Linked DNA regions of Homo sapiens. The protein of the gene in region 4 purifies or fractionates together with the protein of the main gene of each other region. This does not show direct contact. Each region holds a gene or a part of one and is shown on either strand. Other genes may lie near its edges. The genes, in order: CELSR2, IGSF3, NAALAD2 and NAALADL2.

Region 1 (7,337 bases), on a different chromosome or scaffold from region 4:
GGTCCTGGGATTTCATTTCCCATCTTCCTTGGTTCACATTCCCCCTTCCCCATGTTGCCCAGGTGTGCCTACATCTTGGACTGTTTTGTTTTGTTTTGGTTTGGTTTTTTTTCTGGGACAGAGTCTGTCACTGTCACCCAGGCTGGTGTGCAGTGGCGTGATCTCCGCTCGCTGCAACCTCTGCCTCCCAGGTTCAAGCAATTTTCCTGCCTAAGCCTCTGGCCGCCACCACACCTGGCTAATTTTTTTTTTTTTTTTTTTTTTTTTGTATTTTTAGTAGAGACAGGGTTTCACCATGTTGGCCAGTCTGGTCTCGAACTCCTGACCTCATGATCCGCCTGCCTCGGCCTCCCAAAGTGCTGGGATTACAGGCGTGAGCCACTGCACCCCACCACATTTTGGACTTTTTTTTTTTTTTTTTGAGACGGAGTCTCGCTCTGTCATCAGGCTACAATGCAGTGGCATGATCTCGGCTCTCTGCAACCTCCACCTCACAGGTTCAAGCGATTCTCCTACCTCAGCCTTCCGAGTAGCTGGTACTACAGGCGTGTGCTACCATGCCCAGCTAATTTTTTATATTTTTTTAGTAGAGACAGGGTTTCACCATGTTGGCCAGGATGGTCTCGATCTCTTGACCTTGTGATCAGCCCGCCTCGGCCTCCCAAAGTGCCGAGATTACAGGCGTGAGCCACCGTGCCCAGCCCACATCTTGGACTCTTAACAAAAATGCTGAAAAACCTGCACTGTGCTTGGCATAGGGCTGTGCTAGAGATTCAAAGATGAATCATGCAGGGTTCCAATCGTCAGCTCACCACCGAGTCCTGGAGTTACGCCACCACAAAGGCAGACAGTCTGGGGAGTAGGGGGTGTTGGCTGCTGACCCAGGACACCCAGCCCAGGATGGGGGCTGGCGCTGGTCCTGGACTGGCAATGAGCAGGTTCATAGGCAGGAAGTGGCGGAGAGCACAAAGTGGTGGCTGGAGACAGGCAGGATGGGGGCTCAAGGAGGTCGTATGCCCTGTTCCCCTAGAGCCCATGTGTGGACTGATCTTGCGGAGATTTTTGGCCCTGGTGTTCTACATACCTGTCTTCCTGTTTCACCAGGGCCCTTGTTTGCTAGTTACTGTCCCCGGCCCATGAGGTGCTGGCCTCCAGCAGAACCTCTCAGCCAGTCTCAGGGGCTTCCTGTGTGTCTCCCTGAGGCCGGCCCTTTTGGCTTCCTTCCCCCAGGGACTGCTGTGCGCCACTGTGATGAGCACAGGGGGTGGCTCCCCCCAAACCTCTTCAACTGCACGTCCATCACCTTCTCAGAACTGAAGGGCTTCGTAAGTGAACCCCCTCATCTCCATCTTTTCCCTGTCCTTCGTCCTGAGTCTCACTTGCCCCCACTCCCATCTTTGAGAACGGGGCTTCTGGAATTCCAGCCTGTGTGTTCCTGGGCTCCCAGCTGGAGAGGCCGTCTCTCACCTCCTGAGGTCCTTTTGCTCCAGAGTTCCTGCCCTCACTCCTGCTCCTCCGCTCCGTCCTGTCTAGGCTGAGCGGCTACAGCGGAATGAGTCAGGCCTAGACTCAGGGCGCTCCCAGCAGCTAGCCCTGCTCCTGCGCAACGCCACGCAGCACACAGCTGGCTACTTCGGCAGCGACGTCAAGGTGGCCTACCAGCTGGCCACGCGGCTGCTGGCCCACGAGAGCACCCAGCGGGGCTTTGGGCTGTCTGCCACACAGGACGTGCACTTCACTGAGGTGGGGCTTGGAGGATGCAGGGCTGGCTGGTTAGATAGGGGTCATGGTGAGTGAGCCTGCTCATGGCAACCTGGGGGGCAGAGGGGGCCCTCCCATCCCACCTACAAGGAGCTCCCTGCTGGCAGGAGGCCTCCATGAAACCCTGTGACCCCTGGCCCAGCCCTCTTCCCAACCCTTCTCATAGTAACATATGTGTGTTGGGGCATGGTCTGACCCAGAGCAGAGGCCTGCCTGTGGTACCATGGGCTGGGAGGAAGCAGTATCTCAGGACATGTGTGTGGGTCCAGGCACAGGGCTGGGAAGCTCTTATGTAGAGAATGAGGAGGAGGGCTTAGGGGCAGAGCATCCAGTGACCTGAGTGGGCAGTGCGGTCCAGGAGCATTTCAGGGGAGGCAACAGTGAGCACAGAGGGAGGGGCCTGGTGGGGAGCAGGGACTGGCCCGGGCACAGGCCGGGGCTCCATGGTGGGGATGTCAGGTGTGGGTTGTGAGCACACCCACCGTGACCTTGCCCACCCCAGAATCTGCTGCGGGTGGGCAGCGCCCTCCTGGACACAGCCAACAAGCGGCACTGGGAGCTGATCCAGCAGACAGAGGGTGGCACCGCCTGGCTGCTCCAGCACTATGAGGCCTACGCCAGTGCCCTGGCCCAGAACATGCGGCACACCTACCTAAGCCCCTTCACCATCGTCACGCCCAACATTGGTAAGGCTGGTGCCTGGGTTGGGGAGGGGTTTGTGGAGGGAGTCCCCGACAAGAGCGGCTGTGCTGGGGTCCTGCCTGCCTCACAGGTCCGATCTGTGACCATCCCCTTCCTTAGTCATCTCCGTAGTGCGCTTGGACAAAGGGAACTTTGCTGGGGCCAAGCTGCCCCGCTACGAGGCCCTGCGTGGGGAGCAGCCCCCGGACCTTGAGACAACAGTCATTCTGCCTGAGTCTGTCTTCAGAGGTCAGTGGTGGCCATGGATTGAGTTGGGAGCTGGACCCCAGTGTCTGTGCAGACTCCACAGAGAGCAGGGCCCAGCTAAGTGTGACAGTGTCCCCTCCCAGAGACGCCCCCCGTGGTCAGGCCCGCAGGCCCCGGAGAGGCCCAGGAGCCAGAGGAGCTGGCACGGCGACAGCGACGGCACCCGGAGCTGAGCCAGGGTGAGGCTGTGGCCAGCGTCATCATCTACCGCACCCTGGCCGGGCTACTGCCTCATAACTATGACCCTGACAAGCGCAGCTTGAGGTCAGCAGCTAGGGGACAGGTGTGGGTAGGGGTATGGGTCGGGCGGTGAGTGCTGAGGCATGGAGGGGGTCGGGGGCGTCTCCCCAGTCATGTGACTGCCGTGGTGACTGTGCACCTGACTGCCCCACATCAGAGTCCCCAAACGCCCGATCATCAACACACCCGTGGTGAGCATCAGCGTCCATGATGATGAGGAGCTTCTGCCCCGGGCCCTGGACAAACCCGTCACGGTGCAGTTCCGCCTGCTGGAGACAGAGGAGCGGACCAAGCCCATCTGTGTCTTCTGGAACCATTCAATCCTGTGAGCCTGCACTGCCCTCGCCCCCTCAGGCTTCGGGCTGAAAGTCCAGGCCCCTGCATGCCTCACCCTCCTTGTCTCCCTGACCCTGCCTTCCTCACACAGGGTCAGTGGCACAGGTGGCTGGTCGGCCAGAGGCTGTGAAGTCGTCTTCCGCAATGAGAGCCACGTCAGCTGCCAGTGCAACCACATGACGAGCTTCGCTGTGCTCATGGACGTTTCTCGGCGGGAGGTCGGGCCCACAGGGGCAGCTGCAGAGCCGTGGGTGGGCACCCAGGGCACGGGGCTGGGTGCTCAGGTCCTGCCCTTCCTAATTCCCTGGCCCCCTGCCACCTACTCTGCAGAATGGGGAGATCCTGCCACTGAAGACACTGACATACGTGGCTCTAGGTGTCACCTTGGCTGCCCTTCTGCTCACCTTCTTCTTCCTCACTCTCTTGCGTATCCTGCGCTCCAACCAACACGGCATCCGACGTAACCTGACAGCTGCCCTGGGCCTGGCTCAGCTGGTCTTCCTCCTGGGAATCAACCAGGCTGACCTCCCTGTAAGATGCTCCTACTGCCCAGAAACTGTCCCCACCTTCTCAGGCCGCCTCCCCAGCCCCCACTGGCAACCCCTGCTCCTGCACCATGAACTCTAATAAGGTGCCTAGTGCAGCACCTGGCCCAGGGTTTCCTCTTCTGTGGCTCCCCCGGGATCCCCCAGCACCTGCCTCTGGCCCAGGCTTCCCTGGAAGCAGTTCCCAACACCCAGGCCCTCCTCCATGCCTGACCCGAAGCAGAGCCTGTGCTCTGGGCGGGCCCCGGTCGCTGACCTGCCCTGGCCTGGGCCCTCAGTTTGCCTGCACAGTCATTGCCATCCTGCTGCACTTCCTGTACCTCTGCACCTTTTCCTGGGCTCTGCTGGAGGCCTTGCACCTGTACCGGGCACTCACTGAGGTGCGCGATGTCAACACCGGCCCCATGCGCTTCTACTACATGCTGGGCTGGGGCGTGCCTGCCTTCATCACAGGTACTCCCACCCATTCCCAGTCTTGGGGTCCCACATCCCTGGGTCCACCTTTGTGCCATGTTCTCTCCACCCACATACAGGCCCTGAGGCCCCACATCCCCATGCCCCAGGCCGCCTTATTCACAGGTGTCCCTCTGGTTTAACCCAGACTCTGCAGCCGCCACCCAGGCGTCACTCCCTTATCCTGGGGAGATCGGTAGGGGCCGATGGTGGGCAGAACCCTTTTCCATGCTTCATGCCTGGCCCTGTGAGCCCACCTGCCCGCAGCCCTACTTCCCAGGCCCCTCATCACCCCTCCACTGCTCCCGTCTGTCTCCATGCTCCAGGGCTAGCCGTGGGCCTGGACCCCGAGGGCTACGGGAACCCTGACTTCTGCTGGCTCTCCATCTATGACACGCTCATCTGGAGTTTTGCTGGCCCGGTGGCCTTTGCCGTCTCGGTGAGTGCTAGCAGGTGGGTTGGGTGTCACCTGTGGCCCTCCTTTGCTGTCCTCCTGCTGCTGGGGCCGCGTGTCCTCAGGACTCCCTTTAGGAACAGCTGAGGCCACGGGGCCCTGTGGGCTGGGTGGAAGCTGTTTGTCCCCACTGAGCACCCCATGCCCTCTGCCCCTGCCTAGATGAGTGTCTTCCTGTACATCCTGGCGGCCCGGGCCTCCTGTGCTGCCCAGCGGCAGGGCTTTGAGAAGAAAGGTCCTGTGTGAGTATAGGGTTGGGGTGCCTGGGCCATGGGCAGGCACCAGCATGGGAGGTCTCATGGCCGGACTCATGGCCTGTCCCTATCCCCAGCTCGGGCCTGCAGCCCTCCTTCGCCGTCCTCCTGCTGCTGAGCGCCACGTGGCTGCTGGCACTGCTCTCTGTCAACAGCGACACCCTCCTCTTCCACTACCTCTTTGCTACCTGCAATTGCATCCAGGTACCTGGCCCAGCCTGTGGAGAAGGGAGGCACCTGGGCTGTGGATGCCTGAATATGCACAGACCGTTGCTGCCTCTTGCCTGCCAGGGCCCCTTCATCTTCCTCTCCTATGTGGTGCTTAGCAAGGAGGTCCGGAAAGCACTCAAGCTTGCCTGCAGCCGCAAGCCCAGCCCTGACCCTGCTCTGACCACCAAGTCCACCCTGACCTCGGTGAGGGAGCCAGGGGTCTCAGGAGGGCGGTGAAGGGAGGGAGAGGCAGGAGGCCCAGTGAGCCTGTACTTTTGGCCCCACTCCCCTTTCTCTTTTCTCCATCCCTTCCTGGAAGGTGGAAGGGGAGGTGAAATGCTGTGTTCGGCCTGGGGAGGAGATGTTGGAAAGGGTGTGTAGGATTTTGACTTGAGGGAGATGGGGCTGAGACAGATAATCAGGTAATAAGTGCCTTGCACCTGAGAATCTCTCATGAATTTTAGTAAATTTTCTGTCTCCCAAGGTGCTCTCAGGAGACAATTTCTGGTCTCATCTTTTACAGAGCCATTATATAGTGAGTCCAGGATCCCTGGGGGCATGCAGGGGTAGCACAGCTGTGGCAGAGCTGTGACCACTGCCAGGCCTCAATATGGGGACAGCGGAGAAGCAGGGCCCTCTCTTTCAGACCTGAGCATGTGGAAGGTGGAACTTAGGGCAAGTTCCCTCCACCCTCCTTCTTCCCAGCCTGGGGCCAGCCATCCCACTCCCCACTTACTGACCTCTCTGTTCCCTGCCTAGTCCTACAACTGCCCCAGCCCCTACGCAGATGGGCGGCTGTACCAGCCCTACGGAGACTCGGCCGGCTCTCTGCACAGCACCAGTCGCTCGGGCAAGAGTCAGCCCAGCTACATCCCCTTCTTGCTGAGGTGAATCCCGGAGATGGGAGGGTGGAGGAGGGGAGGAGGGGCCCACGCATGCTGGACCCAGGCCAGCCAGCTGTTGGGAGTTGAGGAGCACACACTGTGGCTGACGTGGGGGCCAGCTTGGATTAGAAGCTGTAAGGGACCCACAGCAGGAACCAGGATCCCAGGGGAGAGGAGAGACTGGGACCCTGGGCAAGGGGCCAGGCTGACCCCTCCAGCATGGTCTCATCTTCCTAGGGAGGAGTCCGCACTGAACCCTGGCCAAGGGCCCCCTGGCCTGGGGGATCCAGGCAGCCTGTTCCTGGAAGGTCAAGACCAGCAGCATGGTGAGGACAGAACGCTCTGGCCACCCAGCAGGGCAGTTGGCTGGCTTTTACTGAAGGTGGGTGGAGGTGGCTGGGCTGGCTGTGATCTCTCCCTGGCCTCCTAGATCCTGACACGGACTCCGACAGTGACCTGTCCTTAGAAGACGACCAGAGTGGCTCCTATGCCTCTACCCACTCATCAGACAGTGAGGAGGAAGAAGAGGAGGAGGAAGAGGAGGCCGCCTTCCCTGGAGAGCAGGGCTGGGATAGCCTGCTGGGGCCTGGAGCAGAGAGACTGCCCCTGCACAGTACTCCCAAGGGTGGGCCAGCACTGGGGCTGTGGCCTTTGGGGCCAGTGGGAGGACAGTGGGCCTGGGGTTCTTGGGAAGCAGGACTGGGGTGGTGGCCTCCTGGCTATCTGCCCTCTGTGGGCCTCATCTACTTCCTTTCCCCACCAGATGGGGGCCCAGGGCCTGGCAAGGCCCCCTGGCCAGGAGACTTTGGGACCACAGCAAAAGAGAGTAGTGGCAACGGGGCCCCTGAGGAGCGGCTGCGGGAGAATGGAGATGCCCTGTCTCGAGAGGGGTCCCTAGGCCCCCTTCCAGGCTCTTCTGCCCAGCCTCACAAAGGTGAGTGGGGCACCCCCAGCTGCCGAGCTCCCCTAGTCAGCAGCCTCATACCTCACATTCTCCTGTGGCCGCACCTCACAGCCCCGCCCCGGCCCACAGGCATCCTTAAGAAGAAGTGTCTGCCCACCATCAGCGAGAAGAGCAGCCTCCTGCGGCTCCCCCTGGAGCAATGCACAGGGTCTTCCCGGGGCTCCTCCGCTAGTGAGGGCAGCCGGGGAGGCCCCCCTCCCCGCCCACCGCCCCGGCAGAGCCTCCAGGAGCAGCTGAACGGGGTCATGCCCATCGCCATGAGCATCAAGGCAGGCACGGTGGATGAGG
Region 2 (7,548 bases), on a different chromosome or scaffold from region 4:
AATGAAGGGCTCCCTGCCTTCTTGACTCTGCCTGAGCATACAGGTGACATGGAGACACTGCCTGTATCCCAGCCCACAGCTGAACAGAAGACTAACTAAACTACCAGCAGGGTGTCTGCATGCGTTGGGTGGTAGGGCACTGGCGCTAGTGAACTCACCCACTGGTTCTCTACTGAACCATGCATGGAATTACCTGAGATAGCTCAAAGGCTGAGACCTGGGTCCCACTCCCTAAGCGAGTTTGGTTTCACTGATCTGGGGTTGTTGCCTGAAATCAGAATTTTTAAAAGCTTCCCCAGTGATTCCAACATGCACACGAGAGTTTGAGAACCACTGATTGCACAAATCTATTATGAGTTTCAGACATTATTTAAGGCAGTCAAGGCATTTAGGACACCTTATATCCTTTAGTTATCACACCTTCCCTTGTTTTATTGTTTCTGTTTTATTGACATTCAGATGTCAATCATGGTGAAGCTGGGATAGGAACTCAGGTCCTCTAATTCTAAAGTCCATTCTCTTCCCACACACCTGTTACCTACTGCAAGGGTGTAGACAATGCATGGAAGCAATCTCCACTGCCAACAGATCACCCTAAGTTCCCTACGTGCAAGACACCTAGATTTGGAGACGTGAACCCTGTAGGCAACAATCATAATCCCTTCTGAATGCAGAGGACCGAGCCTTACAGAGAGGGCAGGGGGTGTGCTCATGTATGAGGTCTGAGATGGGGAAAGAGAATGGCACCAAATCCTGGCAATGAAGTTTATCCTAGACCTGAGATGTGTTCTAAGACAGCACGCTGAAGACAGTGCTCAATGGCATAAAAAGAATAGGCAATTGTTGAGCAGAGGGGCCTCTTCACTGGGGTGAAGGTCCTGCATCTGCACCTTAAGAGGGGTGTCAAAGGTTCACCTCTCAGGGCCATAGTTTCTTCTTCCCACTCTAGGCATTCTGATTTGTGGGAGCACAAAAGCCAATCCTAAAATCTCCCCTACCAGGCAGCTTCCTTTTCTTCAGGCTCTCCTTCTCCCAGAACTACGATCTAAGCTTCCTTGGTGAGGAGACACAGGACTAGTGCCCTCACATTTTTAGCCTTCAGACCACTCAGGTAGGCAAAGCATCCCTTCAACCCCCATCCCACTTACTCCCATTTCCACCTCAAAAAAGGCACCATCATTATCACCCAAACCAACTTTCGAGACAGAGGGGAATGATGTTCCCACTCCCAATTAGGAATCAATGCAGCCCAACAAAGAAGTGAAAACACCAGAGCATCCATGTTTGACATGCTACAAGACAGCAGCCCACCAGCCATGTGAAGTCCCTAAACCACAGATGTGCAGATGCAGGACCTCACCCCAGGGGCCAAGACAGACACTTTAAGAACAGCAAATGTTCCTTCTTATAGATAACAAATGATATTCCACCGTTGCTCTTGGGTTAGAAACGGGCCTCTTCGTACTCTACTCCAACCTGTGACACACACCGACCGCCTCCTGGTGTCCCCCAAATCCTAGTGTTGATGAAAAAGAACCACGAGAAATTACAGGAACCAAGAGCAGGTTAAACTTTCACATCGATTGCACTGATAAGCAGAGCCACTTACCCAGCACAGCCAGACAGCTCAGCACCGGGAAAAAGCACTTCATGTCGGCAGCCTCCAGGAGACACAACACAAGGCGCTTCCTCTTCTCCCAGCTCCTAATCTCTCATTTCTGGCAATCCACTTATAGCTCCAGAGAACAGTTTTGGAAATAGAACTTAACTCGGAAAATGGGAACAGATTAAAAAGAAGAGATCAGAAGGAGGGAGTTGGGGGGAAGGGGAGGAGTGGAGGCAAGTGTGAAAACTCCCCTATGCTACAGGAAGGGTCCACAACAATTCGGAAGTCGCTCCCGGCTCCTGCCACATCGTGTGCCTTGCAGTTTCCACTGAAATTGCAGACTGTAGTGGATTAATCCTCCAGAAGCACGGAAAAAAGGGTCTGAGAAAATCCTTTCATCCACTGATTATACAGAAATGTCCTTGGCTTCTCAGTGAAGGTGTCTGTGATCTCCCTCATTCGGATTCCCCAGAGAGAACAGGGCAGGTTTCGTCAAAACCTTTGACGGCCAAATCACCCTGCCTGGCATCAACCGTTTGGGTTTCTTCACCAAAAAGTCCGTTTCCATCCATGGTGGTAGGTCACGGAGGCGCCACCTGCCCCACGCCTGCCTAGGGCACACGAAGCAAGTTGGCGTTCGGCAGCCCTGAAGCGGTACCCCAGCGCGAGCAGATTTCTAAAACAAACACAACAGAGATTTTTATCAAAGGCAAAGCTGCAAAACCCACTGGGGCTGAGCGCTGAGCTGGTCCGGACACCTGGGTCCGGTTCCTGGACCAGGACAGTCAACCTCTGCATTCTGACCTTGGGCAAGTCTCTGTCTTTCCCTCCGCCTCAGTTTCCCTGCCCAGAGCAGGGCAACAGTGGGAAGCCCGATTGTTCCTGAAATACTTCCACCAAATGCTTCACTCCTGGGAATTCCCGTCACCTCCTACCGAGCCCGGGCGCCGCAGGTAGCCCCACCCTCCGCCAGGGCAAATCGGGAAGGGGCTCCGCGGTGGGGCCGCGACTCCCGGCCCCCGCCCCAACCGTGGGAGCTCTGCGCGCGACGCGTCCCAGGTGGCCCCGCTATTGTTTTACCTTGCAGGGTGTTTATATCTCGCTGATTGGAAAGAAAAGAAACCGGGGAAGAAGGGAGTCCGGAGCTCCGCTTTCAGCTGCCGGAGCGCGCTCGCAGCGCGCCCGCCCAGCCAGGGGAGGGGTCTCGGGCCCGACCCGGAGCTCAGCCGGCGCGGGCCCGCTCCCCACTCCCCGCTCCCCGCTCCCCGCTCCACGCCTCCCCGCCTCCCTCCCCGGGGCCCCCTCCGGGCGCCGCCCGCGCCCCCGCCGAGCCTGACCTCGCCCCTGGCCCTCTCCCTCCGCGCGCGTCGGACCGTCCTTCAGTCCATCCAGGCGCACGCCTCAGGGGACGCGCCGCTTCCTCTTCTCCCGCAACGGCACCAGCAGCCGCGCTGCGGCCCCTCCCGAGTCCCCGCCCCTCCAGCTCCAGCCCGGCCCGCCGCACTCGGCGAGGCGAGCGCGGGGCCAGGGCGGCGGCCTCGAAGAGAGGCCCGGCCCCGCCCCCGGCCCCGCCCCTGGAGACGCGAGTCCCGGCCCCGGGCCTGGCGGGGGCATGAGGGTGGCCCGGGGCACCGGAGGACCTGGGCAGGGCTGGCGTGTGGGCCGAGCAGCCCGGCAAGTTAATCAGGGCTTCACACCCAGACTCCGGGGCCGCCGGCGAGATGTACAGGCCCTTCCCAAAGCCCAGCTGGCCACCCATAACCTGGGAAGCCGGCGGCACAGAAGCTCGTCCTTCCTCCTGGAAACAAAAACAAAGCCCTTTGGAGACTTGAATCTGTTCACGAAGTGGAACCCCATATTGCACTTCACTCTTGGATAGAATTTGGACTCTGGAAACAGCCTGGGTTCTAACGCCGGTTCCTCCACTTCCTCGCTGTGGCCCTTGGCAAGTTACTTAACCTCTCTGTGCCTCAATTTCCCCATCTGCTATGTGGAGGAAATAACCCTTACTTAAGAGGGTTATGGGAGAAATCTGTGACATACTTGTAAAGCATTTAGAATGGTGCCTGATACATCACAAGTGGTCAGTAAATATAAGCTATTATTATTTTATGACCAACCGCCCTGTAAAGCAAGTGCTTTTTCGTTTTCTCACTACTTACCCAACACACACAACTTGCTGGGTAGACACCGTCACGAGGCGACCAAAGCAGAATAGACCGCCCTGCCCTCATGCAACTTGCAGTCTAGTGGGGACACAGACCATAAAATAGACATGACAAGAAAAGTACAGTGTTGAGGAAGCAAATGCAGAGACCCCAACCCTGTGTTATTGGGGGAGGGGCAAGGAGGAGGGAGCTTTGGTCGGGGTAGGTCCCAGGCTTCTCAGAGGAAAGGAAAACTCGGTTGAATGCCAAAGAACAGAAGGCAGCAGCAGAGGAAGAGACAGAGGGGAGGTAAGGAATCGCAGACTGAAGAAACAGCACCTCTGCAGGCCCAGAAAGGAGCCCAGTTAGAGGACCAGGACAGTCTGCTGGGCCCAAACTTGACTGTAGGAGAGAAGTGACAAGAAATGAGCTGAGAAGAAATCGAGTGCCAGAACCTAGAGGGCATTGTATGGTGTGTTAAGGGGTTGGGACCATTGGGAAGCCACTGAAGGTGTTGAGTAAGGGACTATGGTTATCAGATATACGTTTTATTTTTCATTTTATTTTAAGAGACAGGTTCTCACTCTGTGACCCAGGCTGGAATGCAGTGGTGTAATCTTGTCTCACTGCAACCTCCACCTCCCGGGTTCAAGTGATTCTCCTGCCTCAGCCTCCTGAGTCACTGGGACTACAGGCGTGCACCACCACACCCGGATAATTTTTGTACTTTTAGTAGAGACAGTGTTTCACCATGTTGGGCAGCCTGGTGTTGAACTCCTGACCTGGTGATCTGCCCGCCTCAGCCTCCCAAAGTGCAGAGATTACAGGCATGAGCTACTGTGCCCAACCAGGAATCTTTCCTTGTGTGTTAATTATTACCTCTTTCCCAGAGACACCCGTGACTCTGGCAGCTCTCAGTTCCCATTTGCTAGACTCCTTCATTTATTTATTGAGCACCTACTACGTGTTAAGAAAAGTCTCTGCTCTCATGAAGCTTACATTCTGGTGGGAAACACAGACAATGAAACAAGTATATAATATAATGTAACGTGTTCTGAAGAAAAGTGGAGTATAGAAATGTGTGGGCGGGCACAGTGGCTCATGCCTATAATCCCAGCACCTTGGGAGGCCAAGGCAGGGGGATCACTTGATGTCAGGAGTTCGAGACCAGCCTGGCCAACATGGCGAAACCCTGTCTCTACAAAAAATACAAAAATTAGCCAGCCGTGGTGGTGCACACTTGTGGTCCCAGCTACTTGGGAGGCTGAGGCATGAGAATCGCTTGAACCTGGGAGGCAGAGGTTGCAACGAGCTGAGATCACACCACTGCAGTCCAGCCTGGGCAACAGAGCGAGAGTATCTCCAAAACAAACAAACAAACAAATAAAAAACAGAAAGGAAAAGAAATAGTGTGTATGTTTGGGGGTTCCAGTGGGAAGAAGGACTCTTTGCTAGGTGAGGTGGTCAGAAAAGACCCCTCAGAGGAAGTGACATTTGAGCGAGACCTGATTACAGGGAGTGTGTGAGCGCTGGAGATTTCTGGAGTAAGAAGATTCCAAGTGCAGGGAACAGCAAGTGCAAAGCCCCATAACATGTTCAGAAAATTAAAGGTGTGTTAGTGTGTCTGAAATGGCATAAAACAGAAGGAGAAGGAGGAATGTGATCAGAGAGGTCAAAGAGGCCAAATCTAGTAGGACCTTCTAACCTGAGGAGCTTGGCTCACTCTGGCTGCTGGGTAAGAATAGAGCATCAGATGGTAGGGGTGGACAAGGGACACTGGATGGGAGGTTCTTTCCATTGCGCAGGTGAGAGATGATCACAGCTTAAACTAGGGTGGTGCTGATGCAGGTTGTGGAAATGGGTGGAGTCTGAAAGCATTTAGAAAGCAGAGTCAATGAAATTCTCTGAAGAACTGAATATGGAGGGGGAGAGAAAGAGAAGAGTCAAGGAATCTTCCAGAAGGGGCATCTCAGCCTGCTTTGGAACTCTCTGACCCCCACCAAGGTGTACCCCCATCAAGGTGCAAGACTGTACTTTCTGAGGCCTCTGCCTAGGCCTTCATCCTTGAACCCCTATACTCAATTATCCCTTCTCTATTACTCGTTCTTTCAATCTCAACCTGCCCCTCTTCATACTACTTGGCCCCTTGCATCCTTCTGGATGATCTTTCAACCCTTGACTTCCATCACCACCCAGATGTGTTATGGCTGATTCCCAGCATGGCATTCTTTCTAATTTCCACATCTACGATATGCAAAGAACTGTGCAAAGTGTTGGATGGGGAGACAAAAGTATAATTTAAAAGAATGCCTCTGCCCTCCAGACATAGAAACGATTAAATGAGTCCTGAACAGTGATGTGATGGTGGCCCCTTCAGGAGTTCATCAGCAGGCAGAGAAGTGAATTGGAGGCTGGGTACAGTGGCTCACCCCTATAATCCCAGCACTTTGGGTAGCTGAGGTGGGCAGATCACCTGAGATTGGGAGTTCAAGACCAGCCTGACCAACATAGAGAAACCCTGTCTGTACTAAAAATACAAAAAATTAGCCGGCCATGGTGGTGCATGCCTGTAATCCCAGCTACTCAGGAGGCTGAGGCAGGAGAGTCTCTTGAACCCGGGAGGAAGAGGTTGCAGTGAGCCAAGATCGTGCCATTGCACTCCAGCCTGGGCAACAAGCTCCAGCCTGGGCAACAAGAGCGAAACTCTGTCAGAAAGAAAGACAGAGAGAAAGAAAGGAAGGAAGGAAGGGAGGGAGGGAGAGAAGGAAGGAAGGAAGGAAGGAAGGAAGGAAGGAAGGAAGGAAGGAAGGAAGGAAGGAGAAAGAAAGAAAAGAAAGAAAGAGAGAGAGAAAGAAAGAAAGAAAGAGAGAGAGAGAGAGAGAAAGAGAGAGTCCTAAGGGAAGGAGAGATGTCAAAGGAGAGGAGTGCACCGAAGTCCCCAGTCAGCAATGTCTGGTGCCCGGGCTGAACATTCCAGCTTGCTTCAAAACATTCTGCATTTGAATTTTGAAACCTCTACTGCACCGGCCTGGAATCAGTTGTTTATTTTGGACATTTTGGAAGACTCCTTGATCTTGTCCATCAGGGAGTTAAATGCAGAAGCCTGCAGAAGCCGAGCTGAAGCACAGTGCCAGGGAGTACTGGGGCCTGTGCACCCAGAGCACAGCCTGAAAGAGCACGCACAGCTTCAGCAAAGTGTTGCTGCTGGGAAGGAAGGTGTGGTGTTGCCTGATTTTCCTACTTTTTAAGAGAATCAGGAAATCCACATTAAAAAAAAATTATTCTTAATTTTGCTCATTGGAAACTAGTGTTTCAAAAATAAATTAATCCCTCTCTTTCTAGTTCTTCCTAGAGTGAGGAAAAGCTGGGTTGAGAGGGCAAACAAATTAACTAATTAATTAACTAATTAAACACTTTGGGGGGGCCAACACAAAATTTTTTCGTGGATAAGATATGGCCAAGTGGTTATATCAGTTTGAGGTTTCTAGACCTACCAATAGCTATAACCAAAAGGCTAATATAAAACCACAAATGGCATAGAGTTACATGTTTTAAGGGGAAAAAAATGAAGGGTGTTAGCCAAGTTATCCTTCATCACTTGAAAGAAGATTGAAGCCAAGGCATTTTGTCTAAGGATAGGCTGATACTGTGTACTCACAAGCAACTGATGTTAATTGTACTTAATGTACTTCAAAATGCCAAATGAAAAGAGCAAACCTCCCTACCTCACAAAACAGCCAAGTTGGAGCTAAAAGTGTCCCACTCAACAATTCTCCCGAGAGCCAGCTTTCTTCT
Region 3 (7,337 bases), on a different chromosome or scaffold from region 4:
ACCAGGCCTCTAAGAAGGTAAGTAGGTAGAAGAATTAACCTTGTCTAAAGAGAGCCCTTCCACTCTAACTGTGTGGTTTCTGTCTCTTAATTGGACCCTGACTTATAAAAACTGATAAAAGATCATTCACCAAAAGGAAATCAGGGAATTTAGGAAGACAACTGGATGCTGAATAGCCACAGAACTACCAATGTCCATTTTGCTGTAGGCTCTGCTTATTTCTCTGGTTTTATCTCTCCTTATTTCCCCCATCACTGCAGAGATACTCCAATTGTATTGATATAAACACATTTTATTTGCTTCATTTTTTTTCTAGACCATAGTATTTGCTATTATTACTAATCCTGTATATAATATTATATAAAGATTACTAATCCTTTATATAATAATATTCAGAAGTCATTACTATTCCATACCCATTTTCTGTGTTTTTATAGTACTCTCTACATAGCCCCATAGTAACCTATTATCTGTATATTGCTTTATTCCCCACATGAGACTTTAAGCTTTCTTAGGACTATGACCATGCCTTGTACACATTTATATCTCCCAGGTAATAACATAGTACTTGGTACACAGTAGAAACTCAGGGCATATTTGATAATTTGGGTATATACTAAAAATAGGTGCCCCCAGAATAATAAAAGACAATGTTTGTAATAAAACAGTAATAGGTAATATTTAATGAGCACTAAGTGCTACCCACCACAGCTTCTATATATTACCAAACTGAATCTCCACAATGATCTTTGAAACATGATATGTTCTTTTTTATCTTTTAATTGTATGAAAGCTAACACATAGAGAAGTTAAGTAACTTTCCCAAGGTCACATAACGAAGAACTGGTAAAGCTAGTATCTGAACCAGGCAAACCACTTCCAAACTCAATCCTCAATGCTACTACATACACTGCATTATGAGTCATCCTTGCTGTATAGGAGATGCACAATGCAGAAGAGCAACCACTAAACAGTCATTAATAAAAGGAAAGTATACTTATAACCATGGAAAAAATGTTTCATATAGACAAACACTAAAAGATATATGCAGTAATAATCATTTTGTTGACAATAATTAAAAATACGTATGTAATAGTATTTGTGGCTTTCTCAATCTTTTGCAAATAATGTTACATTTTTCTAATATTGTTTCTATAACAGTAAATTTTTTTTTTTTTTTGAGAAGGAGCCTTGCTCTGTCGCCCAGGCTGGAGTGCAGTGGCGCGATCTCAGCTCACTGCAAGCTCTGCCTCCCAGGTTCACGCCATTCTCCTGCCTCAGCCTCCCGAGTAGCTGAGACTACAGGCGCCCACCACCATGCCCAGCTAGTTTTTTGTATTTTCAGTAGAGACGCGGTTTCACCATAATAGCCAGAATGGTCTCGATCTCCTGACCTCATCATCTGCCCGCCTCAGCCTCCCAAAGTGCTGGGATTACAGGCGTGAGCCACCGCACCCAGCCAGTAAAAATGTTTTTAAAGGCCATAATACAAGAAAAATGTTTACCATCCCAATGTTTGTGGTAATAACTCAGCCATAATGGATTCATTCTATACATGCCAGATTAAATCAGATTCTTTAATAGGTGTTTGTTTTAAGTTTTTGTGTAGAAGTCAAAATAAGTAAGGCAAATATGTATTCTAGGATGAAACAATATGCATTGATCATCATAGGAGATAATATCTTAAAGCTCTAACTTAAAGACTGTAAAATATCTGCCCAACTATTTCTTACCAAATGATACTCCATGGTCTGTCAATTGTTGATCATGTTTCTTAGATAGATTATAGATACTTGCTGCATAGTTTTTCAAAGCTTCTGCATAGTCTTGAATATTAAAAGGAATGATTTTAGAATCCACAAGCTCATATACCAGTGCTCCTCGTAATTGAGCCACAGAAAGTTGTTTTTTAAATGTGGGGTCATAAAATTTCTCTACCAATTCAAATGTCTCATAAATTGTGTGGTACACTGGGTAGCTGCTGTACTTATCTGTTTTCTGAAAAAAAAATGGAGAGGCAAGTATAAATAAACATTAAATATTCAAGTTATAATATTTTTATGTAAGCATAAAAATAACTATAGAAAAAATAACAACCAGCCAGTCATGGTGGCTCACATCTGTAATCCTAGCACTTTGGGAAGCCAAGGCAGGTGGATTGCCTGAGCTCAGGAGTTCAAGACCAGCCTGGGCAACATGGAGAAACCCTGTCTCTACTAAAAATACAAAAAAAAAAAAAAAAAAAAAAAAAAAAAAAAAAAAAACAAGAAAAAGAAAAAATACAACCATATAACACCCTGAGTTTTACCACAAGGAGGCAAAACGCTAATAACGAAAACACTATAGCCAAATATTCACTGGTTTTAAAAATTTTCTCATTATTTGTTTTATAATTTATGTAACCTTCATTCAAGATGCTACACCTTGAACATTTTCTCCTTGTATCTTCGATAACTAAAATTAGGGAATACATATTCAAATTGCACCTCAGCATAGTTCAAAGTTATCTATCAATTGATTGGTAAAAAAAAAAAAAAGGTTCTGGGCAGCTAAGTACACAGCTTAAGGATGATTTATTTAAGTAACTTCCCTTCCTTCTCAAACAGTGTATATCTAAATGTCATTTAAGCTTTATTACATAATTAAGGTACCATTATGAATATGAATTATTACATAGTAGTATCCCGTATAAATATTCTTTTTAGTTCTTCGGTCTGCCTTTTCTAATTTTAGTTTTTATTATTTGCCACCTTGTATGGCTATCGTTCTTACTGCTGTTAGTATCACTAAAAAGCAATCTCCTTATCAGTCCTTCTCCTTCTATCTAATTATCTGCTTCTAATCTAAAGTGGTCTTAGAAACTAGATAACTTTGAGCAAATTACAGAAGACAGAGTATAAAAGTGAACAGGCCTTGACAAAGAGTTAAAACACATCATTTATGTATTAATTGTAATGAATGTAAGCATTCTGAGTTTATCTATTTTGGGTTACTCTGGGGTTGCTTTTATTTCTTTGTTCTTTGTTGTATTCTGAACAGTCAAATTTGCAAGTGATATACATATAATGGGCAAGCAAGATTTAGATGTACTGTAATTATGATTTGAAGATTGATTAAAATCTATGACAAATCTGTGTCTGCTACTGTAATCTTCAATTTGGTTTATGAAATAATTTATAACATTGATGAGCAAACATGGTATATATTGGTTATATCCAAGTACCTGCATATCATCAGGATGTCTGTGTGACAGTAGTGCAAACCAGTCAGTGCAGAACAGAAAAGGGGATCAAGTTAAAAGAGAAACTTGCTTTATTTCCCAACCAAGAACCCTTGACTCAGGTGACAGGCAGAAGTGGCAATATGAAGAGGAGCTACCGACAATAATGAATCTTACCCTAATGCTCCTCTTGACCAAAATATGTTCTCCAACTGCATTTATCCTCATGAAAAGTACATCAGAGCCTGCAAGACTAGTCTAGAGAATGAGAGTTTTCTGACAAATCAGGAAAAGGATGTGAACTACTTAGTACTGATTAACCAGATAAGTGTCTGGCATTACTCTGTGAATCACCATTTATTTGATTAACCCTAACAATGAAATTTTCACAAAATTACTCAAATTGCTTCCTTGTCCATCTGGAAAGGGACATGCAGTCTATCTCTATCCCTGGGAACTCTTCCCAGGCCACATCCACCAGGTGTCTGGTGCCAAACAACTCAGTGACATTCTTCGCCAAAGGACTGTAGATGAAATGTTATATATTCAAAATGATAAAATGGCTTACCTTATTCTTAGTGTAACGGGCTCTGCCTGAAGCAATTCCAAGTCTCTGAAAATAAGCTTCAAAGTCACTTCCAGATCCCAGCTTATTGATTCTAGATGTAGAATGCAATCCACACACACACACACACACACACATAAACAAGTAAATGATACAAAGTTAAATAGATGGGACAAGGAATCCTGCCCCAAGAATAGCAAGGAATTATATATTACATTTATAAGAATTTAAAAAAGGTCAACCACCATCAAGACATTTTCCCATAATCTGCAGGAAAATTGCTGTAAAATTAAAAGTAATGCTGAAAATTAAAAATAATGGCAAAAACTGCAAATACTTTTGCACCAACCTATAACAAGAATTGGGCTGTGCCACCAAAGACTGCATCTTGTGATGATGCTCTCCATCATATCTTCAGCATTTACATTTTTGTTTAGAGGGGAAAACAATGAAGACGTGGGCCCTACCCTCAGAGAACTATCATCTAGTAAGAAAACTGCCATAAAAAAATCTACTTTTAAAATCATGAAGAATATAAATGTGCCTCATTTTAGAAATAAATCTAATTATAATTTATTTCTTTGCATATGATTAGGAAACCTCTGTTGATCTATCACATATATATGCATATACATAAATAAAATGTAAGACATGAAAATTTTTAGTAAAATAATGGTAAGTCATGAAAGCAGAATATAAAATTGCATGTTCATTAATAACATAACTGTTTATTTCCAAACTATTAGGTTAGTAGATATGTTTTTGAGACTGACCTCTTCAATGTTTTAGAAATCATTTTTGTATTTTACTGTTTTTGTTGAATTGGCATGTGAAAGTTTTATAATGGACCCACATTCAAACTTTCACAAGACTGATTTGAAATGAGGAATAAAGCTATAAACTGTTACTATTATTTGCTTGTACAAGTTGAGTATCCCATATGAAATGCTTGGGACCAGAAATATTTTGGACTTCAGATTTTTTTCCAACTATGAATATTTACATATATGCAGTGAGATATCTTGGGGATGGGGCCCAAGTCTAAACATAAAATTCATTTATGTTTCATATGTATCTTATAAACATAGCCTAAACTTAATTTTACATAATATTTTAAATAATTTTGTGCATGAAACAAAGTTTGTGTTAAGTGCTATAAGGTGTGGAATTTTCCACTTGTGACATCATGTTGGTGCTCAAAAAGTTTTGGATATTGGAGCACTTCAGATTTCAGGTTTTTGAGTTAGGAATGCTCAGTCTGTATTAGAAATGGCACTACAGTAGAAAACAAATATATACTTTTTATTACATAATGTTTAGAAAAAAGAAAATAAAAACAAATAAATATAAAATAAATTTAAGAAAGCTGCTGTAGCATGAATGAGATGACATAAAAAATAAAATAATATTTATATAAATTCTAAATCACAGGTAAAGACACAATTTGGTGGTTACTGATAATGTTCCTTAATAAATTTACAAGCAAATAATCTAGCATTTGTCTTTTCATCATTATCATCTGAAGTTATATTATATATTAATACACCTAATACATATGTAAATGAAATTTTAAGCAAGAATGCCAACTAATGGCTAATAATGTAGCGAAACTATTTTGGCTAAAAATTTGCAAAACTAGATCTATTTGTGCTCTAACATAGACTGAAAGACTTCACATGCTGGCTAATCAGCAAAACAAAACTGGATAGAAGAATTCTTATTTTTTTTTTTTTTGAGATGGAGTTTCACTCTTGTTGCCCAGGTTGGAATGCAATGGCACGATCTCGGCTCACTGCAACCTCTGCCTCCCGGGTTCAAGCAATTCTCCTGCCTCAGCCTCCTGAGTAACTGGGATTACAAGTGCCCGCTACCATGACCGGCTAATTTTGTATTTTTAGTAGAGACAGGGTTTCGCCGTGTTGGCCAGGCTGGTCTCCAATGCCTGACCTCAGGTGATCCACCCGCCTCGGCCTCCCAAAGTGCTAGGATTATAGGCGTGAGCTACTGGGCTCGGCCAGGAATTCTTCATTATCTTTTCTTGGCTCAAATTATTGATGAGACGCTTGAGAATTTCATGCTTGGAGAAACAAGAGGCAGAGGGGAATTCATAACTTATCCTACAGTAGAAAAGGTGCATATCAGTAACTTACCTAGGCAAATTTTTATTTTCAGGTGAAGGGTCTTTTTCCAACCAGCTTTCATACAGTGATTTACTCTCAAACCCATCATCAGGGCTGGGGATCTGGAAAGAGAAATCAAATACTGGAAATTAGGGGTAGAAGCAACTACATTTATGCCAAAATAAAACTATATATTATTTGTCATCAACTTCTACTTTTAATAACATATGTACATGTATATATTTATACACATGTATATGTTTTATAGAAAAATTATATTTTTGCAAATGGCAAGAAATAAATCTAGCCCAAATTATTTTTTATTCATGATGTCTACCTGTGTTGGTAATTTTGCCATGTACCTAAGATGTAATTTCCTGCTTATTTTGGTAAACTTTTAAATAGAACTTAAAATCTTTACAAATGCCATTTTAATTAATGTTTGGCAGCTTAGATTTCTTTTAGTGGGAAGACACTGGAGAAAACTTCAGATAAAACATTTGCTTTTGTAAATTATTTTTGCCTAATAAGACCTATAAAGAGGTCTCAGAACAATAGAGGTGACATAATTTCAAGCTCAGCTTCTTAACCTATAAGTCTTGGTTTTGCAGGGCAGGCAGGGGTTAGCGCTGGGACTATTCTTTTAGACAGTCTTATTATGTTTAAACAAAGTTAAAATTTTATGGATTTTTTAAAAAACTCTACATAACCTCAGATTTCTACTTGGGAATTTTTAAGAGCTCGTGTGTGTGTGTGTGTATATATATACATTTTTACTCCTTTCATTAAAAATACATTTACAAACTTATACTTGCCTTGTCTTTTGACACTCTAAGAAGAGCAGAGACATGTGGTGAAAACATTGTGGACTGTGGAGTCAAATTGGTCTATTTTAAATCTAGACTACTACACATATTGACTATATTTTGTTTTCTTGTTTGTTTATAACACTGATTTGCTCAAAAATAGACCCAAGGCAGACCCTACTTAAGTAACTGTGAAAGCATTATAACTTGGTGTATTTGTTCCCCTCTTTGAACCTTAGTCTTCTCACCTGTAAAACTGGGGATAATGGTACCTTTCTGAATATAAACATCTGGTATTTTCTCTGGCCTTTAGACAGAGTTGGTTATTCTAACTTCTGTGCCACTATTCTTAATTTTTCTATAGATATTTACTAAGCACTGAACTCAGAAAAGAGATGCGGAAACAGAGACATAGTCTCTACCCTCTTGGACCTCACAATGAAATCTAATTGGGGATACACACACCAAACAAATTTTGTAATACAAAATTATAATAAGCAGTTTAAAAGAAAATATCAAAGTGCTATAAAGAGATGTGGGGATGAGAGATAGATATGTCTCCAAGTAAGGGCTTTCTGAGAAAATGGCAATTAAATTTAAGAGCATCTAATAAAGATGTTGGGTAT
Region 4 (7,337 bases):
TTTCCTTCACTGAACTTCAGCTTCCATTTGTGAAAAGGGAAAAATTATATTTATCTCCTAGAACTGTTTTGGTGTAACTACCTCTTTTTTCCACTCTTCTTTCTCCCATTTCCAAAGTGTGGTCATTTCCCAGGGCTTTATGACAGAATTTCTACTGTTTTAAGCTTCTTAAAGTTATACTCTATAATTTCATCTTTTTTCACCTCATTCCCAGTGATTCTCCAGTTGTATTCTTTCTCATGTCTCACCTTAGTTCCAGGCTTGAGTCACCAAATCCTTGCTGTTTGACTATTTTGTCCTTTAATATTTCTCACTCATTTTAAATAGAAATTCCCAGCATGAATTCCTCTGAAAACTCCGTCATCTTTATCTTCTCTCTCTCCCATGGACTCATCTCAGTTTCTTTTATTTCTGCTCAGACTTTATACTCCATCATCATTATTCATGTCTTCTTCCTCTACCATCCATCTTTGTATAGTCTCACCTATTCACAATGTCATACACCATTTATGCCTTAATAACTCCTAAAGCTTTATTTCCATCCTATTTCTCTCTCTCCCAAGGTCTAGTCTCAATTTTTCAATTTAAGTCCTAGACATTTTCATCAAAATATACAATTACAGTTTAGAATAACTGTTTTAAAGCAGTCTCATTATATTTCTATTGCCTAAACGGTCCCCATCCTACATTCTCTAAATCAGTTAAGGATACTATTCCTGCTGTCATCCAAGCAAGAAATCAAGTTTTCACAGTCTCTTCATTTTTCCTCCTTCAGTACAAGCAAACACCAATTTAACCTCAAGTGTCTCCCAAATTCTTTTTTCGAATCCCACTATAATCACATGAATTCAGCGCATCATCACTATGATGATGGATAACAATAAGGATGAGGTTTAAAATTAAAATGATGGTGTTGATGATTGTGGGAACAGAAAAAACATTTATCAAGTGTAAACTATGTGCCATGGACTGCTCCAAGTGTTTGGCATATTTATGTTTTTAATTTTCACAATTACCCAGTAAGGGGCATATGCCTAATATATACAAATATAAATAAGCACATCACTAAATTTCCCAAAGAACTGAGAATTCATCAAAGGCAGCAGACATACCCTCCATATCTAAAACAATCATGTAAAATAAATTCTATTAAATGAATACATTAGTATTTCGATACCTCACTGTTATCACAAATGCAATTTATCCAAAGGTAAAAGCATTACATTTCTCCTTCTTCCAAAATAACCTATTTACCCCTCACAATGTATCTAGATGCAGTTACATTAGATGCACAGCCATCCGTCACACCTAGTACCTTAGCATTATGTCTGAAGCCTTTGAAATTAGCCTCCTGTTACCAATAAGAACCAACCCTTTGACTCTTTCATGAGCTTCTCTCCTTACATTCTGCTGCTCTAAGTTTCATTTGTTATTTGCCTTTTCATTCTTAGACTTTCTGAGAGCTCATCTAGGTAATCCAACGAGAGTCACTGTAACACAGAACTAGAGAAAATGAGGAGGAATAAATTCTCTAATTTTGAATAACAGTGCACTACTTCCAATCTCAGAATAAAGAGACTCTATGCCAACTATTATTATTCTTGAAAAAAGGTCTGTTTCAATTTGAGACAATTTTTATTTGCCAATGGTTCTTTTATTTAAAGCTTCTTGTTTTATTTTGTTTTGTACTGATCATGTTAAATGCTGCTACTTTATGCTCAACTAATTTTCATGTTAGAATAAATGTAAATTGCATATACACATAGGAATAAGACTGTGCATTTTATGCTTTTTTTCTGAGCATATTAAACTTGAGAAAACATAGTATATGTTAGCTATGGATCTACGCACTAGAAATGAAGCAATAAACAAGTCAGCTATGGCCTTTCATCTCAGGAAGAGAACATTTTATTGCAGTGAAATAGACAATAAACAAATATACCAAAAAAGGAAAATGGCTTATGGTGACATATTAAAAGAATTAAAAATCACACATTAAGACAGACTGGCTAGTTTAGTTTGTGAGGCTGGAGATGATATTTAATCTGATAACTGATTGACAAGAAGGAACATAATATAAGAAGTTCAGCAGAAACAACCAAAACATGTAAGTGTTAATAGCGGATCAGCTTGGTGTGTTTGTTGGAAGAAAGGAGAAGGCCAACACTGTGAGAGTCAAATAAGCTTAGTAAGTTTCTGCCTTAAATTAGTACCCAATTTACTAGTTCTTTCCCCTTTTTTATTTTTGTGATTATGAAGATAAACTATTTATTATCTAATCAATTTAGTTAAATATTTTACATAGACTCCTTTTCCAGAACATTCTATTACCTACATACCAACTTAATTGCAGATTATGTTACTAAACAACATAAGATATTTTGATAAATATGATTTAGTAATTAGTAAGTATTTTATAGAAATATAGACAATATTATGGGTTTTCTAATCTAGAAAAGAAAAAAAGATGCCCCAAAGAAATTTTTATAGGTCTAATTGTAAACTGGAAAAAATATAAAATATGATGCTAAAACTGATCAGAAATCAGAGTCAAGAATAAACACATTAATATTTTCTTAGTAATTTTTTTCTTTTTCTCCAAATTCCTATTTACCTACATATAAAATAACTTCTAGGCAACATCATTACTTCATTGCATCTGAAGGTTATAAAGTCGTTATTATCAATGCCCATATGCTCTTCCTTATTCTTATCTCTATTCTCCTCTTCCCCAGATCTGCCATAGTAACTGCACTGAACCCTTCATTAACCAAAATAAATGCAAAACACCTATATAAAATTCATTAGGAACTCTGGGACAGACAATTGAGTAAGCTTATAAGATATATATATAGAAGCCTAAATTTTAAAAGAATCTATTTTTATTCTGAAGTTTTAACAGTGTAAATATGTAAATCATGTAAATACATAGATCTTGTACAATCTATATTTTTAAATTATTCTTCTATTATTTTCCTTTCTATTTTCAGATTTACTATAGGTTTGAAATTTTTTCTGCAGAAATGTTTTTGTGACAAATATATGGCTGCATAGTGCAATAGCTTTAGGAGCTCAAAGGAAAATCATCTATGTCAATATTCTTATATGAGTTATATAATAGTATTTTCCTTCTCTCTATAACAATTTTAATTTTAATGCTCAGTGTTTTCTAATAAAGATGCTCTCTTCTAGTTAGGCCTGTCTCTTATCCTCTATAGAAATGATTTCAATTTCTATCATCATGTCTATCAAGAAATCCATGCATCTGTTGAATGACTGGTACATTTCTATATAATTTGAAGACCATAAATGTGAAAAACAATTTATTATTTTCTTTTGGCTGCTAGGAGGCTTGAAAGCAAATTTGTCACCTGCTTGACAGTTTTTCAGCATGTTCTGGCATATATTTTGTATACAAATTTTAACTGTTACATTGTCTTAATCTTATCTCTATTATGTTTATTTATTTATAGCCTATAGCAAAGTAGAGAATTTTGAAAAATCCTCTGTTTCCAAAGAGGGGGGAAATAAAGCAAGTAAATACATAGAAACAATTTCCATGCTTTCTCTCAGCTGTTCTTTTGACCAGTGAAGGCTTTTTTCCTTCTGGTCACTTATTCCAGTTTATCAAACTGCCAAGGAAATTTCAAATCATCTCTCTTCTATGAAACCCTCTATAAATTCCTAGATTCCTCTATAATTTCTTATTTACATCCCTGTGTTATAACAATACCAAGAATCAGCAAGAATGGAAGCAATGTCTACCTTTTGAGGCAGTGTATTTCTCCATCTCTGAAAGCTCCCTCGAAGAAATGTGGATGTGATGGAGAAATTTTCAAGATTTATCAATAGTTTAATGGAAGATAGGCTGGTCTACGATTGCATTAAAGGTCATAAATAAAGAGGAAGATAAAGTACAATAATCCTTCATTCCTCTCTTCTCATGACCTGTTTTCAAAGGAGCTTACTTTTGAGAGAACAAAGGAATCAAGAGATTGAATGGATTTCAGCAGTTTAATCAGATCTCAGAATGAATCTTTCACTGAAGTTTCAAGTCACACGGTAAAGTTGATTGTATGGTTTAACAAGCATACGTGCACACCTTTTGCATGTTCATTATAAACTGCATTAAATTTAGCAGTTGACTTTTCAAAGTATTTCTCTTTCGACTTTTTTAGTTGGTAGGATTTTATAACTTTATTATTTTTTTTTGGACACAATATACAACCTGCATTACACTAATCAGGGGTTTAAAGAGGCAGGTAAATTACTTTTCAATATAAATTACAGAAAGCATTTATGAAAGAGCCTCCCGAAGTGTTCGACTATGCAGATGGTTAAACATATCTGTCACCAGAGCAACAAAATAGCATTGTCAAATAAAACTATTGACACATACTTTTCCTGAAGAGTAATTAGAAGCTCAAGGGATCAACTGAAGCTCAATGCCCTTTTGTGTATTGTCATCCTAATAACATCTTCTTTGCAATCTTTGCAGTCACCTGTTATTTCTTCACTTATATATCAAGTCTAATACTTTCCAATAATAAATCAAATACATGTTTGGTTAATAGTCCTCCCCCAAAAAACTGTGATACAAAGAAGTTTGGCTTACTGTCCTACTCAATTAGCTAAATTTGTTTAAACTCCTTCCAAAATCCAGAGAATAGCATACAAAGTAATAATTACATTTATATACTTATAATCTTAAGATTATTACTGCATCTTTTGTTCAAAGAAAAATTCAAAAACAGATTCAAACTTTTAAATAGATGGAAAAGTTTTTATTGCATGATTAATAATAACGTATAAACAATCAAGTCATCCTGTAGTTATGTATCACCTTTTCTTCAAGAAGATTTTACAGTGACTTTAATTGAAATGTAAAATGTTTCCCTTTGAAACAATTTCAGTACCATAAAATATTATTTAAATCAAAGGGGATTAAACAAACTCCAGGAACAAACTCCATATTTCAAAGTGTTTGAGAATTGGCTTTTCCTCCAACAGCAGGTTTTAACTAAGTACCATGTCATTGACCACCTTTATCTCACGTTCTATTCAAGTACACTGCTTGCCATCTTATTTCTAATAAGGTAAAGATTCCACTTCCACTTAGAAAGACAAAGAAAAAATTAGCTCATAAGCTCAGTTAGTTGATTTCATTAACTATTTCTTAGGCTTTACTTCAGATTTTGTTTTCCTAATCTCTTTTGCCTGCTGCAAAGACCCTCTCTTGTACCTGGAAAATGTACCCAGTCCATCTTCACATGCACCTTTGCCTAACTCACTCATTTAGGTCAGACTCACCTTGGATTTCATGCCTTGACATTTTCAGCAACTTTCTTTGCTCCAAATTTGCTTGATTTTGTTTTGAGATTATGAGACTTTCCAGCAAAGATTCTGGAAATTTCAACTCCAAGATGTCCTGTTACCTCAATATCTAAATGTCAACTCTGAAATTCCTCAGGTCTTCAAGTGTTTGAACCTATCATGAAGGGCTAGTGAAAGCCTTCCTCATGGAACACAGGTCCAACAGGAGCTCCTTGCACTTCTGTTAATTGAAAATGCTATTAAAGTTCTGTAGGCTGGGAAGGAAGAGTCACATACTGGTTAGTCCTCTTTGTGGCATCACAAAGATTTCAAGGCACTCACAGTCATGGTTTCTGATGATGAATACAGAGATATTTTTCCCACCACAGAAAGTAAGCATGCACACCAAACCAGTATAACAGGTTGGAGTACAAAGTACTACTACCCTCAGGCTGCAACTTGGAAGCATAGACACTAAGGCTCCTCCTGCCTAGAGTTGTTTTTTTTTTCTTTTACTTATTTTAAATAGAATTAGTGCCATTTCTAAACAATGACTCTATTATGAAGAAACATTCCATACATGTGCCTATGAACTTACAAGCCAACTTCTCCTAGCTGTAATGAAAATTAACTAAATGTCTTACAAGCTAATGTAACTTTTGTTTAGTAAAGAGAAAACCCAAGCCTGGATGGACAGGTTCCATAATAAGCTCACTGAATACTCGACAATGCTTTCAAGACCATAAATATAGAAACTAAAAGACGTCAATATGGAAAACATTACTAAGACTGCTTTCTCCATTAGAAATAGGAAAGTAAATTACTCTAGAAAATAATGCACCAAATTCTTCCGTAAAACTGCAGCAAACGCAGTTTTGAGCAGCAGGTTAGAGACGTGGCCTCTGGCAATGGCTTCTGTGAAACCAAAAACAATTTTCCTAGCTTCATAGGATCTCTGTTACTCTACAAAGTAAAAACATTGGACTTGAGACTATCTTCTAGCTTGAAAATGTTAATTTTCTGAAGATTATTTTTTCCTAACTGTGATGGCAAAATTCTCCTTCAGTGGGTTGAAGAGTTATCTCCTGCTGGTTGCTATCTAGAGCTAGCTCTGCATTCCTCAGGATCCAGCCAACTCCTCTGTACTTGGAACATCTTCCCCCAGAGTTCTACTGTTTTGTAGCCTTCAGAGTAGGGATTTCCTAGAGCTAGAGAACTAAGAAGAACTGAAGTAGAAGGAGAGCTATTATTAGAAACGCTCAAAACATCCAGGCAGCTGGTAGGCAGCACGAGTGCCAAGTGTATTAAACAGCCCAGGGAGGCGTAACTTAAAGATTCCTCCTCTCACAAGATTGTCCCAGCATTAAACTCAGAAATACTTTTTATTCAATTATCTCAAGGGCCAATTAGTATATCATATTATTTACAAAGAGGAAGGTGCCCTTGAATATATTTCGACTAAAGATGAAAAGGAGAGAAAGAACATGTTAAAAGCTCATGGAAACTGGATTCCTGAGGTAGCAGGAGCTCAGCAGGTGAAGCACATAGCTGGATGCTGATAGATTCTTTCCCCATTTTCCAATTCTGACTAGGACCTACTCTGTTAATAAGAATCCTGGGAGAAGTAGGAAATGGACATCCTTCGAGGCAGAGAAGAGGTAAGAAGCCCTTATACGTTCAAGGATGGCCTCTGAAGAAACTTTAGCCTAAGGCATATTCCAGGTAGTTCCCTTCCAGGAAGGGAGCTGTCACCCTCCCATCTCCCAGCCATGTCCCTCCCTCTACTCCTGTTACAGACTGATGGAGTGATAGAGTGCCACTCAGTGGTGCAGGTGAGTTTGCAGGCATTATGCAAGAAAAATGATCCTTCCCTTCACAAATAACAATGCTTAGAAAGCACTTACCCCTATTCCTTATGCCATATTATTTGTACAATTTTATTCATATTTGCAACGTTTAGAAAAAAATTCTAGCATTCTCTCCTTACCTAGATAATTTATTTTATGAATCCTGAGGACATTATG

What was found.
Region 1: the proteins of NAALADL2 (region 4) and CELSR2 purify together in Homo sapiens (affinity purification with mass spectrometry; 3 studies listed by BioGRID and IntAct, with this or other methods). This does not show direct contact.
Region 2: the proteins of NAALADL2 (region 4) and IGSF3 purify together in Homo sapiens (affinity purification with mass spectrometry; 3 studies listed by BioGRID and IntAct, with this or other methods). This does not show direct contact.
Region 3: the proteins of NAALADL2 (region 4) and NAALAD2 purify together in Homo sapiens (affinity purification with mass spectrometry; 3 studies listed by BioGRID and IntAct, with this or other methods). This does not show direct contact.

What each region holds. Positions count from the first base shown.
Region 1 is NC_000001.11:109,266,318-109,273,654, forward strand, and holds part of CELSR2 (cadherin EGF LAG seven-pass G-type receptor 2 precursor), read left to right. Parts: intron 1-1,230; coding exon 1,231-1,325; intron 1,326-1,533; coding exon 1,534-1,743; intron 1,744-2,263; coding exon 2,264-2,447; intron 2,448-2,562; coding exon 2,563-2,691; intron 2,692-2,792; coding exon 2,793-2,973; intron 2,974-3,106; coding exon 3,107-3,274; intron 3,275-3,376; coding exon 3,377-3,503; intron 3,504-3,615; coding exon 3,616-3,816; intron 3,817-4,108; coding exon 4,109-4,283; intron 4,284-4,609; coding exon 4,610-4,722; intron 4,723-4,899; coding exon 4,900-4,979; intron 4,980-5,068; coding exon 5,069-5,195; intron 5,196-5,282; coding exon 5,283-5,405; intron 5,406-5,960; coding exon 5,961-6,088; intron 6,089-6,322; coding exon 6,323-6,411; intron 6,412-6,515; coding exon 6,516-6,710; intron 6,711-6,848; coding exon 6,849-7,019; intron 7,020-7,118; coding exon 7,119-7,337. UniProt on the Homo sapiens protein: Receptor that may have an important role in cell/cell signaling during nervous system formation.
Region 2 is NC_000001.11:116,664,675-116,672,222, forward strand, and holds the start of IGSF3 (immunoglobulin superfamily member 3 isoform 2 precursor), read right to left. Parts: upstream 3,060-7,548; 5' UTR 2,944-3,059; intron 2,795-2,943; exon of another isoform or gene 2,687-2,794; intron 2,283-2,686; 5' UTR 1,653-2,282; coding exon 1,610-1,652; intron 1-1,609.
Region 3 is NC_000011.10:90,172,514-90,179,850, reverse strand, and holds part of NAALAD2 (N-acetylated-alpha-linked acidic dipeptidase 2), read right to left. Parts: intron 6,028-7,337; coding exon 5,936-6,027; intron 3,880-5,935; coding exon 3,789-3,879; intron 1,999-3,788; coding exon 1,734-1,998; intron 1-1,733.
Region 4 is NC_000003.12:174,862,064-174,869,400, reverse strand, and holds part of NAALADL2 (inactive N-acetylated-alpha-linked acidic dipeptidase-like protein 2), read right to left. Parts: exon of another isoform or gene 5,333-7,337; coding exon of another isoform or gene 5,311-5,332; intron 1-5,310. UniProt on the Homo sapiens protein: May be catalytically inactive.